Linked DNA regions of Homo sapiens: region 1 is linked to region 2. The links come from fine-mapping of genetic effects on gene expression. A gene starts in region 2. The other region holds a variant in brackets. All regions are shown on one strand. Distances are from middle to middle. Region 1 has its middle 9.0 kb from the start of PDIA3. Region 2 holds the start of STRC (stereocilin).

What was found. PIP is the estimated chance that this variant, and not a neighbour inherited with it, causes the effect.
Region 1: its variant is the best candidate, but not a certain one, in a credible set for the expression of STRC in whole blood (TOPMed, PIP 0.58).

Annotation. Positions count from the first base shown.
Region 1 is chr15:43,736,022-43,738,935 of GRCh38, forward strand. It overlaps the pseudogene CATSPER2P1. Among named protein-coding and RNA genes, the nearest start is that of PDIA3, 9.0 kb to the right of the region's middle. The variant C/T (reference allele first, on the strand shown) is at 1,308.
Region 2 is chr15:43,617,076-43,619,989 of GRCh38, forward strand. STRC (stereocilin) reads right to left here and starts at 1,725. Exons shown (of 29, transcript NM_153700.2): 1 at 1,584-1,725; 2 at 496-1,281; 3 at 383-407. The coding sequence starts at 1,647.

The sequences.
Region 1 (2,914 bases), 120 kb after region 2:
CCCCCTCGGCCTCCCAAAGTGCTGGGATTACAGGCATGAGCCACCGCACCCGGCCAATTTGTTTCATATTCTATGTTAAGCCCTCACATTTATCTACCTTGCCCCCTGCTTTAGCTTGCAACAGTCAAATCACCTTGAGGGCCCTGACCAGGACCAAAATAATAACTCGAATTTGACGGAATTGTGCAAGGAGTTTGAGAGACCTCAGCACCCGGCAGATCCTCAGAAGCTGAAGCCACACCGATTGGCCTGTTACCCCTACCAATACCACAACCTCGGGAAGCAGGGACTGTGGAAAACACACAGGTTATAAGTAAAATACACCCCAAGGCACCCAGGCAGAATTGCAGCTTCTTCATCTTATCCTCTTCATTGTTCCCTGGGCGTTATCCTTTGAATAGCATTCTCTGAGAAGTGCTTACTATTCAGCCTTTCTATATTAAGTTGCTTAAACACTATACTTCAACTTGTTCAGATATAAAAAGGGGGATAAAATTCATGGTTATTTAATTAGGTTGTTGTGGAGCATAAATGAGATAATGTAAGGAAAACACTTAAAATAGTGCTTGGCACTTAGTAAGTGCTCAGTAACCGGCAGATGCTCTTGTTGGCATTGATGTTGTAGTTAGTCTACTTTGCTCCTAATACCAACAACTCCTGCAATGATTGATGTTTAGTTTTAGGAAAAAAAAATCAAAAGAAAGAAGTTAAGTAAATTTTTGTTTCTTCCTATTATCATGTTAACTTGTTCTTTCGATTCACCTAGGCACATTCTTCATCCCACTAAACGAACCCTCAGGATCTCTATCCTTACCAACATGGTAACAACAAAGTCAAAGACATTCCAGGCACTCTTCCAGAAAACAGAAAAGTTGGATAGCCACTTAAGAAGGATCTCCAGGATGAAAATAAGCAAGATAAACCAAGCTGCCCCCTCCAAGGTCAGCTTCAATGGCCATAGTTTGGTATTTGTGGATTCCAGCAATTCTGTGAGGATAGAGCAAAGGAGGAATAAAAGTTAAGGAAGCTGGAAACCGAATGATGGAGAATGAACACACTTATAAACCACAGTTTTGCCCACTACTGTTCCATTTTTCTTCACACTGTGTTAAGAGTTAAGAGTTTCTCTTCTTAACACTGTTGCTTCAACCTGTGAAATACAGGGAAGGACAGAATTGACCATAAAACACAGCCACAACCAATCTGTTCATATAGTTATGTCTGCCCAGCTACAAGTCACTTGCGATCCACTCTGGGGCTCACACAGCTACTAAGAGACTACTCTCTTTAATTACCCCTACCTCCAA[C/T]CCCCCACCCCCATCTACTGTACTGTTATCTCAGTCCCAAAGTTCACAAGAAAGCAATGGGTCTTGAGAACAGAATGAAAATACAGGGCCATGATATCTGAACTACTTTATAACGAATGTAGAAACAAGCCACAATCATTAGGGTATATCGAATTATAACAATAAATCACTTGGTTCTGTTAGCTTTCTTTTAAAACTTTTCCTTTCTTCCCTGCCTAAAATTGGTTTTGTTCTGCAAAGCAAATTGAATGCATACTTCCTCTCTAGAACCTTATTATTTACCAATTGCTATTCCTTAATTCATTGCCTTTCTCTTTCAACCTTCTTCATCTCTTTTATACAATTAATGGATGTATGCCATGCTCTAGAAAAAAAAACACTGAAATTAAAATGGCTTAAGAGCTAAATAGAAATCAACATTGTGGTGCTCTGGCTTTAAATTCATCCTGATGCTGAACTGGATCCAGACAAAAAGAACAGAACCATACTTCGATCATCCCTAGAATTTTACAGAGGTTGGCCCCTTCTAAAAACCAATGGGGTTACACTATACTTATTCCTATGCTTGTTTTGAGACAGAGTCTCACTCTGTCACCCAGGCTGGAGGAGTGCAGTGGCATAATCACAGTTCGCGGAAGCCTGGATCTTCCGGGCTCAAGAGCCTCTGGGTAACTGGGACCACAGGCACATGTCACCATGCCCAGCTAATTTTTTCTTTAAATTACTTGTAGAGATGGGGTCTCCCTATGCTGCCCAGGTTGGCCTCAAACTCCTGGGCTCAAGCGATCCTCCGGCCTTGGTCTCCCAAAGTGCTGGGGTTATAGGCATGAGCCACTGCACCCAGCACTCCTATGCTTATTTAGGCTCTGTACTTCTTCCGTAAGTTTTTCTTTCATGCACATTTCTCTAAGATGGACAATATTTCACATTTTAACATCCATGAAATTAGGATGCTTTTTTTTTTTTTTTTTTTTTTTGAGATGGAATCTCGCTCTGTTTCCAGGCTGGAGTGCAGTGGTGCAATCTCAGCTTACTGCAACCTCTGCCTCTGCGCCACCATGCCCAGCTAATTTTATTATTTTTGGTAGAGACGGGGTTTCACCATGTTGGCCAGGATGGTCTCTATCTCTAGACCTCGTGATCTGCCCACCTCGGCCTCCCAAAGTGAGGATGCATTTTACAACCAGCGATGTGTCCCAGTTTAATTGAGCATGATTTTTATTTCTTATTGGTAAACAGTGAATTTCACCATTGATGACAGCTTAAATTCAATAAAATACAAAATTTTTTCACTTAACAATAAATTCTAGCTCTCAGGAGCATGGGATTATATAATTAGAAAGAGCTGAGGACCACATTTGTGGCTGGAAAATAGAATGCTATAATTTTTATTCAGTTTTTGCCCTTGCAAAACAGGAACCCAAACAGAGCAATGAAGTAAAATAAGGCTCTTGTAAAGCAGAATATAGTTTTGAGTAGTTTAAAATAGTTTAAGTAGGGAAGTCCAAATTATAGAAGCAGTAGCACTTTTACTCTCTGGAAAAATGAATAATTTTATAGAAGCTAAACAAACCCAAGGAAGTTCAGAGGAACGAATAGCAGAAATT
Region 2 (2,914 bases):
AGAGGAATCCAGCTGTGTCCTTATTTTCCAAATCCCATCTTTACTAGCTAACATTATTAAGCGCTATGTGCCAGCACGGTTTTAAGTCGTTTGCATACACAGTATCAACTCATTTAACCGGGTGCAACAACTCTGTGGTAACTAATATTATCATTCTCATTTTATAAATGGGGAAACTGAGGTATAGAAAGACTATGTAACCTGCTCAAGGTCATATGGCTAGGAAGAGGTGGAGCTGGGACACCAACCCAGACAGTCACACCCCAAAACCACTAAACTACACTCCTCCCATCAGTTTTCCTCTCTAGAGGCTGAGGTCTTCAGCTCTTCACCTCCAGATTTTCCAGGCCCAATCCCTCAGAACTGGTCTCCTGTTACTTACCATAAGAGCAGCTGTTGAAGGTTACCTAGGAGGGAAAGAGTAAGGAAGAAAACTACCCCAATTTCACTTTCCTTGCCCTGCCACATCCCAGTCCCAGCCCTGGCCACACTCACCTCCCTGGCACTGCCCATTGGTATCAGGCTCTGGCTGCCCCAAAATGGAGAAGACCTCATCCTGCAGGGAGTGAGTGACACGGAGCAGCCCCTCCTGAAAGGCAGCATAGAGGGGGGCCCCCACTGTGCGTAGCAGACCGCCCCAAAGAGCCTCCTTGGAGCCTAGCTCCCCTGTTGGGGTAAGCAAACCCAACAGACCCTGCAAAAAGTGAGGAGCTGCCTCCCTCCCATCGAGGCCTGTGGCATTGGTGGGGTCCACACTGGGCTGCACCTGCACCAGAGCTTGCCAGCGTGTGCCCTCTAACAACAGCAGCAGAGAAGGCAACCAGTCAGCAGCCAGGACACAGTCAGACGGCCCATCACGGGTGCATGGGGGCCGAGTTGGGGTAGGGGGGCCCCCAGGAACTAAGGCTCCCAGCAGCACCTCCACAAGTCCACCCAGCACCCCTGCCTGGTGCACCAGGAAATCTCGGGGAGTCTGCTCCTGTCCCAGCAGTGCCAGCATATCCCCTAGCAGCCCTAGCATTGGCTCCCAGTCGGGGCTACCTCTCAGTGTCACTAGAAAATCATGGAGCCGCAGAGCAGGCGGCTGGAGAGGTGGGGGCTCTCCTACTGGTCCTTCCCCCATTCTCCCAGGCTCAAAGGAAGAAGAAATGTTGGCCAGGAATGTAAAGAACCGTGAGCGGCTCAGGGAGCCCTGGGGAGCCTGGTCCAGAGTGGAGAGCAATGACTTCAGGAAGGAGAGACCAGGGTCCAGGGAATGAGGCCCAGTAGGGGCCAGAGTCACTGTAAGGAGAGAAACCAGAGGTCACTGAAGGAGAGGAACACAGAGCCCAAACTCAACCCTGCCCCTGAGCACAGTTCCCTACCTGGATCTAAAGATGAGGTGAGGGGATGGTGAGCTGAACCCCTTTCACTGGCCTACAGTAAGTCTTGGCCTGCTTTTCTTAACCCTCATTTTTCCCTTTTGCACAAGTCTCTGCCTCTCTCCTTTGTCCTTCTATCTAACAGGTTCACCTCCATATTCTTAAAGTCTTTTTCCAGCCACCCTCCTCCTCATCCCCAGTTCTGCTCACTGTTCTTCTTACCTGCAAAGGACAGCAGCAGCAGCAGCAGCAGCAGCAGCAGCAGGGGCCAGAGGCTGAGAGCCATGTTTCCAAGTGAACACTGGTACCGGAGGTGAGTTCTGGTTATTCTCACCTGTGTGGGATAGCCAGGTGAGGGCAGGGCACTGCAGGCAACCTGAGGCTCCACTGACACTGTAGTGTGGTCTTTCAGGAAACAATATGTGTAACCTGACAGCAGGTTTGTTACCTGAGCCGCTGAATATCTGATCCTTTAGCTCTGGAGAAGGGTATGCTTCTGTGAGAGGGACTAATGATAGGGGATCCCAGGGGCCCCTCAGAGAAACCCAAGGAGATTGCTTGAGTTAGGAGCCAGTGATGCAGAAAGGAACAGGCAGACATGGAGATGGAGAACTGGAGACCAGGGGTGTAATCTGGGGTTCTGCAGAAGCAAAGAAAACAAAGAGGATATGAAGGAGCTAAGAAGCAAGTAGGATTTGAGGAAATTGAAGAAGAAATGACGCCCAGGAGAAACAAACTGCACAGCAAGGTATAAACAGACGAGAGGTCCAGTCCAAGGATGGAGAATTCAGGAAGAGGAGAGCTGCTTTCAACTACTACCCAGAACCACAGAGTGTCAAGAGCTGAGCAGTACCCCAGAGATCACATACACCAAACTTTTTCACTTATGGATAAGGAAACAGACCCAGAGAAATGTGATTTGCTCATTAGGCCATTCAAATGTTTGGGTCTTTCCTTCCCCCTCCGGGATCCCCTATCATTTGGTTCTTTCTCTGTGGCCTAGGTGAAAGCCCTATCAAAAACTCTGAGCTGAGAAGACAGAAACCAGATTAAATCACTATGCACAGGGACTGATCTCCCTACACACAGAACTGCTCATGGAACAGAGAAAGAGATTTCATTCAAAATAATCTGGTCTGGTCAGGGTTAGAAGTCTTTTTTCGTCATTTTTGTTTTTTGTTTTATTGGTTTTTTGGTTTTGGTTTTTTTGAGATGGAATCTCTCTCTGTTGCCCAGGCTGGAGTTCAGTGGGGCTATCTGACCACTGCAACCCCTGCCTCCTGGGTTCAAGCGATTTTCCTGCCTCAGCCTCCCAAGTAGCTGGGATTACAGGCACGTGCCACCACACCCAGCTAATTTTTGTATTTTTAGTAGAGATGGGGTTTCACCATGTTGGCCAGGCAGGTCTTGAACTCCTGACCTCAAGTGATCTGCCCACCTCAGCCTCCCAAAGTGCTGGGGTTACAGGTGTGAGCCACCGCGGCATTTTTTTTTTTTTTTTTGAGATGGAGTCTCACTCTGTTACCCAGGCTGGAGTGCAGTGGCACTATCTT